Linked DNA regions of Homo sapiens: region 2 is linked to region 1. The links come from fine-mapping of genetic effects on gene expression. A gene starts in region 1. The other region holds a variant in brackets. All regions are shown on one strand. Distances are between the middles of the regions.

Region 1 (5,378 bases):
GATTTGTAAAAGCTATTTTAAAACCCTTCATCTGCCATATATGTTACATTTCTTTCCTGCTTTCTGCCACCTTCCAATTTGTTACCAACTTTCTTCTCCAACCTTGGGCCACTGGCATATACACTCATTTTAAATATCAGAACTTGTAGTGCTCTTTGAAATGCAGACAGACTATGGTTCATTCTGCAACTGCATATTAGTTAACAGGCAAAAATACCTTAGTAAGAGAAAGTGTCTTTTCCTTCTAATGTAAAAAAAAAAAAAAACCTAACCCCCCCGAAGCACTAAGGTGTTTATTTGTTTATTTTTTTGAACAGGGTCTCACTCTGTTGCCCAGGCTGAAGTGCTGTGAATCACAGCTGACTGCAGCCTCGATCTCCTAGGCTCAACCCATCCTCCCACCTCTGCCTCCCAAGTAGCTGAGACTACAGGCATGTGTCACTACACCTGGCTTTTTTTTTTTCTTTTTTCTTTTTTTTTAGAGATGGGGTCTCCCTATGTTGACCAGGCTGGTCTGGAAGTCCTAGGCTCAAGTGATTCTCCTTTCTCCTGTCTCAGCCTCCCAAAGTGCTGGGATCATAGGCATGAGACACCATGCCTGGTCAGTTATTTAAGAAAATAAATATTAGACCATGCAGAAATAATGCTATCCTAAAATTTGTGAGCAAGTACAAAGTTCATGATTTAGAAATTTAAACAGTTTAAACGCAAAATGAAGTTCTTTTTAATGAATACCAAAAAACTGACTGAAAATCTAGTGAATACCTTTTATGCTTCAGACACCTCGTATAGAGAGTCTTTACCCTCAAGCATCTCGCAGTTGAGTAAGGGTGACATGTAAGAAATAGGTTACAATCATTGTGACAAGGACAACTGCAGTATTATTATGTACACACAAGGCAATGAACAGGCAGAAGTAAAGTTTTGTCATGAGGCAGGATGAGGCTATAGAAGAGGTGACAACTAAGCTAAAGAAGCCACTCAGGATGTCAGAAGACAGCTGTTCAGTCAAAAACAGGCACAGTATCCAAAGGAACTCATTTGATCCCTAAAATTCTGTTAAGATGTGCTGTAGGTGGGGCGCGGTGGCTCACGCCTGTAATCCCTGCACTTTGGGAGGCCGAAGTAGGTGGATCACCTGAGGTCAGGAGTTCAAGACCAGCCTGGCCAACATGGTGAAACCCCGTCTCTACTAAAAATACAAAAATTGGCTAACATGACGAAACCCTGTCTCTACTAAAAATACAAAAAAAAAAAAAAAAAAAAAAATTAGCCGGGCGTGGTGGTGTGTGCCTGTAGTCCCAGCTACTCTGTAGACTGAGGCACGAGAATCGCTTGAACCCAGGAAGCATAAGTTGCAGTGAGCCGAGATCGCACCACTGCACTCCAGTCTGGATGACAGAGCGAGACTTCGTGTCAAGTAATAATAATAAAAAAAGATGTGCTGTAATTGTCTCCGTTTTACAAAAGAGGTCAAGTAGTTGACACAGGTCCCACGCTAGTGAGGGTTTTGGGATTCAAGCACAGACCACCTTCGCCCCTATGCTACACCACCTCAGGCTGTCGGGAGATAGGCGCCCAGTCAAAAGGCACATGGAAGAAAGCCCACGACTTCTCAAGCATTGAAGCAGGAGTGGCGCATCGGTATTCTCAACTTCAAACTTTGAGAACAGTCATGGTAGGAATGCATTTTATTCAAGAATGGGTTCAGGTGAGGGTGGATATGGGCACTGGGTTCAAAGGACAAATTTGGAGAATTCATGATCCAGGAGAGTGAACAAATAAGGAAGGGCTAAAGAGATCCTCGAAGTTGAAAGGTTCAGAGTTAATGTCCTCTAAGGAGAGCCAACAAGGGGTTACAAATGCTGAAGTCATCAAGAAAATGTGCCTGTCTTTCCTTGAGACTGGGAAGGAGAATTAGGATGACGAAAATCCAGAGGATGGTAAAATAGCTTGACTTCAAAATAACAGGCCGGGCGCCGTGGCTCACGCCTGTAATTCCAGCACTGTGGGAGACCGGGGTGCGGGGGGGTGGATCACCTGAGCGCAGGAGTTCGAGACCAGCCTGGGTAACAGGGTGAAAACCCGTATTAAAAAAAAAAAAGCCGGGCGCGGTGGCCCACGCCTGTAATCCCAGCACTTTGGGAGGCCAAGGCGGGCGGATCACTTGAGGTCAGGAGTTCGAGACCAGCCTGGCCAACATGGTGAAACCCCATCTCTACTAAAAATAACAAAAATTAGCCGGACGTGATAGCGGGCACCTGTAGTTCCAGCTACTGGGGAGGCTGAGGCGGGAAAATCGCTTGAACCCAGGAGGCAAAGGTTGCACTGAGCCCAGACTGTCCCACTGCACTCCAGCCTGGGCAACAGAGCAAGACTCCGTCTCCAAAAAAAAAAAAAAAAAAAAAAAAGCAAGAAAAAGAAAGAGAATGGCGAGGCCCAGAGAGACCGAAAGTCCCACCAGAGGGTACAGAGCTAGCTCAGCCCTAATGCCGGCCCCGCGGTGCCTTTCCGAGCTCACGGCCTCCCCTCAGCATCCGGGTTTCGGCCTCGGAGCGCCAGGGACGCCACGAGGACGCGCCCCACACTTGCGCTTCTGGGTTCCAGCCCCCGCGGCCCCCAACAAATAAAGAAGGGAAAGTGCTGAGGGTGACGGCCCCGGGGAGCGCTGCGGCTCTACGTCAACCTGCGGCGGCCGCCGACTCATTTGGGGCCACGCTGGTTGCATTCGTCACGCCGGCGATGCCTCTCAAACCCGCGGCCTGCCGAGGACGTTCCCACACGGGAGACCCCAGCGACGCGGGCGCATCTGTGGCTCTCGAGAACCGGGCCGCGGAGCCGCCGCGAGCGCAAGCGAGGAATCGGCGACTGCGGGGGTGGACAGCTGGGGCTTGTAGTCCCCTCGCTACCCTCTATTCTGGAAGAGGCGGGTCGCGGCCGCTGAACTCCAGCTCTGCGCCTGCCCAGGCGGCCGCACGCTCAGGGGCGTGGCATGGGTGGGTCGTGAGTTGGGCGGGGCCCACAGGGCGTGCGCGACGCAGCGGCGCGGCGCGTGGCGTAAGGGGCGTGGCGCCAGTGGGCGTGGCGTGGCGCAGTGCGAAGGGACGCGGTGCGCATGCGCGTGAGGGCTGCCGCGGGTGGGTGGTATCGAGGCCTGTCGGGTCAGGGCGGTTCGCGGGTGCTGTCAGAGCTGGGCCGGGGCCCCTAGGCAGGGTAGCCGGGTCGTAGAGGCGGGGGCCGGTCGCGGTCGGTGGAGCGGGATGAGGATGTAGGAGGGGCGGACGTGGCGGAAGCCGCGGGGTCCGCGGGGTCGGTGCCTCTAGGGAGCCAGGGAGGCCTTTCCCGAGGCTCCTGGGGAAGAAGAGGCGAAGCGAGAGTCCCTGGGGAACCCCCACTCCACTCCCAGCTGGAGACTGGGTTGTGTCTGCATGGACCAGAGCCCACAGTGCGAGTTGCTATAGGCAACCAGCCAGGGTGGCCAGCTCCTTCCCGTTTGCCCGTGATGTTCTGGTTTTGGGACCAAAGCATCCTAGGCCTCCAGCCCACTGCAGTGACCGAATTCTGCGCCCCCTGCCCATCTTCTCCCGCAGCTTCCCTAGATTAGGCTTGGGAGGCAAGAGGAGGCCTCCTGACCTTTCACACTGCCTTTTTAATATTAAGATGAAGTCACACTCCACAACTTTCTTCCAGCCAGGCCCAGACATGTCCGTCCTTGTAAGTTAAAAGCTTCCATGGGAGCCTTCCTTCCTAATCAAGGTAGGTAGACTACAGGAAGGTACATCTTGTTTTATATTTTGTCCTGTAGAAGTCAGATTTCAGCCCAGTTGTGTAGGAGTGAGGATGAGCCTATGCTTATATCAGAGCTTTGAGTACAGAGACATTTGGTCTGGAATTTTAGTCAGCCTCTTCAACCCCAGAATTTATAGGTTCAATCAGAACAGACATTAGCTTAAGTTTTCCCATCAATCGTCTATCATTAAACTGGCAAAATCTAAATAATTAGAAAATATGACAAAGATGATCCAGACAGAGATGTTCAACTTTTTCCTTAATTCAAAAAGCCTCGTGGTGGAACATCGGACCCATTCAAGAGGAAGGATGAAAGCTCTATATAGGAACACGATGTGAATGGAAGAAACCTGTCATTGTGAGGCTGGCTTTTGATTAGTCATCTGATGTCTTCCCTAATGTGACATGACTTTGAGGCCATAAACTTCAGTGGCTAAGCTGTAGTTTCTCAGCCTGCAGTTAAATTGCAGAAATGATAGGGCTTACATTAGTTTTGTTTTTATTTGATGTTGAAGATCTTTGAGTCACATTAGAAACGATGAGTATTTTTCATGTGGCACTGATGAGTTAATTCATATTATTATTTTTTGAGACAGAGTCTCTATTGCCCAGGCTGGACTGCAGTGGCACGATCACGGCCCACTGCAGCCTCGACCTCCTGGGCTCAGATGATCCTCCCATCTTAGCCTGCCAAGTAGCTGGGACTACAAGTGCACATCACCACATCCGGCTAATTTTTTTGTAGATATGGGGTTTTGCCATGATGTCGAAGCTGATTTCAGACTCCTAGGCTCAAGTAATCCTTCTGCCTTGGCCTCCCAAAGTGCTGGGATTATAAGCGTGAGCCACTGTGCCAGGCCAATATTATTCCCCAAAAGAAGGAAGTTGGGTGTGAGGTCCTGCTCCTGTGGTCACCGTGAGGTTTTTTTTTTTTGTTTTGGACTCTTGCCCAGGCTGGAGTGCAGTGGCACAGTCATGGCTCACTGCAGCCTCAAGCTCCTGGGCTCAAGTGATTCTCCTGTCTCAGCCTCCCTGGTAGCTAGGACCACAGATGTGCACAACTATGCCCAGGGAATTTTTAAATTTTTTGTAGAGACAGGGTCTCACCATGTTGCCTGAGCTGTTCTCAAACTCCTGGCCTCAAGCAATCCTCCTATCCCAAAGTGCTGAAATTACAGGCATGAGCCACCACACCTGGCCACCACTAGTTTTTGTAATGGGAGCAGGTTCCATATGAGATGGAGGAATGGATTTCATGATTGTCTTTTTAATTTCTTAGATCTCCAAGAAATTGGACATGAGGAAACCACTCTAAGTGTGACCACTCTAAAGCATTAGCAATCAGTCATTTCACTCTAGGGAGAAATCAGAGCTGAAATATAGAGGATAGGTAAAGTCCCCAATGTAGATATGTATTTTTATATTTGATTACTTGCTTTTTTTTGTTAGATGCAAATAATACGGCACTCCGAACAGACACTAAAAACAGCTCTCATCTCAAAGAACCCAGTGCTTGTATCACAGTATGAGAAATTAAATGCTGGGGAACAACGTTTAATGAATGAAGCCTTCCAGCCAGCCAGTGATCT
Region 2 (5,378 bases), 220 kb before region 1:
GAATCGCTTGAACCTGGGAGGCGGAGGTTGCTGTAAACCGAGATTGTGCCACTGCACTCCAGCCTGGGCGACAGAGCAAGACGGTCTCAAAAAAAAAAAAAAAAAAAAAGATAAGCCAGGTAAAGAAAATCGAAATTGGGCCGGGCTCGGTGGCTCACGCCTGTAATCCCAGCATTTTGAGATGCCCAAACGGGCGGTTCCCTTTAGGTCAGAAGTTCGAGACCAGCCTGGCCAAAAAGGTGAACCCTAATCTCTACTAAAAATGCAAAAATTACCGGGGCGTGGTGGCGAGCGCCTGTAGTCCCAGCTGCTTCGGAGGGTGAGGCAGGAGAATCGCTTGAACCGGGGAGGCGGAGGCTGCAGTGAGCCGAGATCTCGCCATTGCACTGCAGCCTGGGTGATAGAGCAAGACTCTTTCAAAAAAAAAAAAAAAAAAAAAAGGGACCGTGCGCGGTGACTCACGCCTGTAATCCCAGCACTTTGGGAAGCCGAGGCGGGCGGATTATGAGGTCAAGAGTTCGAGACCAGCCCGGCCAACATGGTGAAACCCCGTCTCTACCAAGAATACAAAAATTAGTGGGCCGTGGTGGCGCGTGCCTGTAATCCCAGGTACTGGGGAGGCTGAGGCAGGAGAATCGCTTGAACCTGGGAGGCAGAGGTTGCAGCGAAGCGGGATTGCACTACTGCACTCCACTCTGGGCGATAGAGCAAGACTCTGTCTAGGGGGAAAAAAAAAGAAAATCGAAATTCTGTAAGTCGGAGTTAACCACTCCTACAAAATGTATTAACATTTTGGTGCATATCTTTCTAATTTAGTCTGCGTGTGATGTGTTATCCTTGTTATCCTTGGCCTGTGAACTCTGAGGCATTCAGGAAATGCTTTTCATGAAAACAGGTTATTTATTGCGTTGACATTTGCACCGATGGTGCAGAAGCAATAGCGGGTGAAATAGCAAATTTAAGGCATTTGAACTAAACTAATAAGAGTCATATTCTTTACCTTCGTGCACTGGCAGAGGGAAAAAGCCAGGTTTACTGAAGCATATCCTTGGTGACGCTGTAAGAATAATTAAGTGTATTAAGTTTCAACGCTTGAGTGCACAGCTTTTTAATATTTTCTTTGACAATGGGAAGTATGAATAAATCACCTCTACGCATACCAAAATACAATGGTTTTTGCTTGAGTAAAGCACTTGTGGGATGTTGGAGTTGCACTCCGAACTAGCTGCTTTTCAGTCGTACCGAATTTTCATTGAAGGAACAACTGACCGACAAACTAGATTATTCAGAGTTGGGCATTTTGCAGATATTTTTTAGAAAATGAACAAAGTGAGCATGTCGCTTCAAGGAAAACAATATGCACTGTTTGTGGCTAATGAAATAACCTACATTTTCAAGGGAAGGCCGGGTGCGGTGGCTCAGGCCTGTAATCCCAGCACTTTGGGAGGCCGAGGAGGGCAGATCACGAAGTCAAGAGATCAAGACCATCCTGGCCAACATGTTGAAACCCCATCTCTACTAAAAACACGAAAATTAGCTGGGCGTGGTGGCACGCGCCTGTAGTCTCAGCTATTCGGGAGGCTGAGGCAGGAGAACCGCTTGAACCTGGGAGGCGGGGGTTGTAATGAGCCTAGATGGCGCCAGTGCACTCCAGCCTGGCGACAGAGCGAGACTCCGTCTCAAAAAAACAAAAAACAAAAAAACAAAAAAACCGTCAAGGGAACATTTAAAAGCTTGAAACTTTGTATCCACCACTGTAAGCTTGATAGCTTTCAAATATTTAAAGACATTTCTGTTTAATGAGTGCAATGTTTTGATGTTGTACAATTCAATGTGTCAACACTTGGAAGATCTGCATACCTCTTAGTGTAACGTGTTTCAAATGACCAGTGCATAATGTTCGATATTCCTGCATGGGTAAAGGTAAAATATGCATCCAAGTGGAGTACAGACTAATGAGCCACCACCGCACGGCCAGACTAATGGATTTTAATGTAACAGAATGCAGAAAGTTTGGTGATATGCTCTAGTTTTCACATTGCAGCATATTTTCTTAATTAATTGACTTTATTATTTTTTATCAGTTTTAGGTTTGCAGAAATATTGAGTGGAAAGTACAGAGGGTACCTGTATATTCCTTCACTTTCCCTCACCAATTTCCCGTTATTAACAGCTTGCATTAGTATGGTATATTCATTACAATTGATAAACTAATACTGATACATTATAATTAACTTCATTAACAATATAATAATTAATATTAATAATAATATTTAATATACATTATTAGTAAAGTCCATAGTTGATACTTGCAGGGTTCACTCTTTGTATTGTGCATTCTATGGTTTTTGACAAAGGTATAATGTCATATATCCACAATTACAGTATCACACAGAATAGTTTCACTGCCTTTAAAATGCCTTATTCCACCTATTCATTCTCCCCTTCCTCCCCTGAAACCCTTTCCAACCACTAATCTTTTTTTTTGAAATGGAGTCTCGCTCTGTCACCCTTGCTAGAGTGCAGTGGCACAATCTCGGCTCACTGCAACCTCCGCCTTCCGGGTTCAAGCGATTCTCCTGCCTCAGCCTCCCAAGTAGCTGGGACTACAGGCACAAGCCACCATGGCCGGCTAATTTTTGTATTTTTTAGTAGAGACGGGGTTTTACCATATTGGCCAGGCTGGTCTCGAACTCCTGACCTCGTGATC[C/T]GCCCGCCTCAGTCTCCCAAAGCACTAGTATTACAGGTGTGAGCCACTGCACGTGGCCCCAACCACTAATCTTTTTTGTCTCCATAGTTTTATCTTTTCTAGAATGTCATTTACTGTAGTTGGAATCATACAATGTGTAGCCTTTTCAGACTGGCTTCCTTCATTTGGCAATATGCATTTAAGGTTTCTGCATGTTTTTCTCATGGATTGATAGCTCAATTTTTGCTTGCTTGTTTGTTTCTTTGTAAGTTTGTTTTTGAGATGGAGTCTTGCTGTGTTGTCCAGACTGGAGTTAAGTGGCACGATCTCAGCTCACTGCAACCTCCACCTTCTGGGTTCAAGCAATTCTGTCTCCTGCCTCAGACTCCCAAGTAGCAGGGACTATAGGTGTGTGCCACCATGCCTGGCTGAATTTTTTTTTTTTTTTTTTTGAGATGGAGTCTCACTCTGTCACCCAAGCTGGAGTGCAGTGGCTATGAGCTCGGCTCACTGCAACCTCCACTCCTGGGTTCAAGCAATTCTCCTGCCTCAACCTCTGGAGTAGCTGGGATTACAGGCACATGCCACCACACCTGGCTAATTTTTGTATTTTTAGTAGAGATGGGGTTTCTCCACGTTGGCCAGGCTGGTCTCAAACTCCTGACCTCAGGTGATCCACCCACCTCGGCCTCCCAAAGTGCTGGGATTACAGGTGTGAGCCACCGCACCCGGCCTATATTTTGTATTTTCAGTAGAGACGGGGTTTCACTGTTTTGGCCAGGCTGGTCTCAAACTCAAACTCCTGACCTCAAGTGATCTATCTGCCTCGGCCTCCCAAAGTGCTGGGATTACAGGTGTGAGCCACCATGCCCGATCTGCTTGTTTTTTTGAGACTGGTTCTCACTCTGTTGCCCAGGCTGGAGTGCAGTGATGCAATCACGTCTTACTGCAGCTTCCAACTCCCAGGCTCAAATGATCCTTCCGCCTCAGCCTCCCAAGTAGCTGGGATGACAGGCGTGCACCACCATGCCTGGCTAATTTTTATATTTTTTGTAGAGACCAGGTTTCACCATGTTGCCCAGGCTGGTCTCAAACTCCTGGACTCAAGCAATCTGCCCACCTCAGCCTCCCAGACTGCTGGGATTCTAGGCATGAGCCACCATGCCCAGCCTTCTTTTCTTTTCTTTCTTTCTTTTTTTTTTTTTTGAGACAGTCTTGCTCTATTACCCAGGCAGGAGTGCAGTGGCTCAATCTCAGCTCACTGCAACTTCTGCTTCCCAAGTTCAAGTGATTCTCCTGAATCACATCATGGCTAGCTAATTTTTGTATTTTTAGTAGAGACAGAGTTTTGCCATCTCTACTGGAGTTGGCCAGGCTGGTCTCGAACTCCTGACCTCAGGTGATCCACCGGCTTTGGCCTCCCAAAGCGCTGGGATGACAGGCACGACCCCCACGCCCGGTCTGGACTTTTGTTATTATTATTATTTTTTTTAGAGACAGGGTCTTGCTCAGTCACCCAGGCTGGAGTGCAGTGGCTCAATCATAGCTCACTGCAGCCCCAAACTCCTGGGTTCAAGCAATTGTCCTGCCACAGCATCCCAAGTACCTGATACTACAGGTGCACACCACCACACCTGGATAATTTTTTTTTTTTTTTGTAGAAAAAGGGGGTCTCCCTCTGTTGGTTACACAAACCCCTGGCTTCAAGTGATCCTCCTACCTCAACCTACCAAAGTGCAGGGATTACATGCATGAGCCACGGCACCCAGCCTTCTTATTTGAGGTGGCAAATTCCTTTACTCATAAGCCAACTTAGGATTGGGTCTTCTGCCTCTTGCAACCAAAAGAGTCATAAACAATACACTCAGGAATTTGTGAGAGGAAGATAGGATTGACAACAAAGGTGGTTTGGAGAAGGGGTAGATGTATGGATCTTTTGGAATGAACTTAGAAGGTGTGGATTTGAGTTATATGGATGTTCACCCAAAGGCCTCCACTGTGGAATAGGCTATTAATATTCAGGTGGCCATGATGGCCTGCTCTGTAGATGTCCATCATCCTCCTTCCCCTGCCAGGCTAGTGCTTGCTTAATGGGATCATGAACCACATGGCCAAGGCAGCAGAGACAGAGGCTATGCATACGCTCAGTATCATTCACTTCCTACTACTGAGTCTGGTCTGGCTACTATTTCTGCCGGGGGCCCAACCAGCCCTGATGTTGGCTTCACACCCTGAAGGGACCATTCAATTACCTGGTGATCATGACAATAACATTGGACCCTTTCCATAATAGATCAGGAGGAAGAGACATTTTATCTGGATTGGGCCATATTTACTTTCCAATGTGTCACTCTGCTGCCAGCACCACCATCCATTCACTTTCTTTTTTTTTTGAGACGGAGTCTTGCCCTGTCGCCCAGGCTGGCGTACAGTGGCATGATCTCGGCTCAGTGCAACCTGCGCCTTCCAGGTTCAAGCGATTCTCCTCCCCCAGCCTCCCGAGTAGCTGGGATTACAGTCGCGTGCCACTACGCCCAGCTAAATTTTTGTATCTTTAGTAGAAATGGGGCCACCATGTTGACCAGCCTGGTCTCAAACTCCTGATCTCATGATCCGCCCACCTCGGCCTCCCAAAGTGCTGGGATTACAGACATGAGCCACCGCGCCCGGCCCCTCCTTTCACTTTGCA

Evidence for each region. PIP is the estimated chance that this variant, and not a neighbour inherited with it, causes the effect.
Region 2: its variant is fine-mapped to the expression of AMZ2 in lung (GTEx, PIP 0.93).

What each region holds. Positions count from the first base shown.
Region 1 is chr17:68,244,950-68,250,327 of GRCh38, forward strand. It overlaps AMZ2 (archaelysin family metallopeptidase 2), which reads left to right and starts at 3,094. Exons shown (of 7, transcript NM_016627.5): 1 at 3,094-3,756; 2 at 5,239-5,378. The coding sequence starts at 5,239. RefSeq lists enhancers at 1,614-2,160, 2,161-2,706 and silencers at 2,921-3,220, 4,530-4,579.
Region 2 is chr17:68,021,137-68,026,514 of GRCh38, forward strand. No RefSeq gene overlaps it. Among named protein-coding and RNA genes, the nearest start is that of TRR-CCG2-1, 3.9 kb to the left of the region's middle. The variant C/T (reference allele first, on the strand shown) is at 2,711.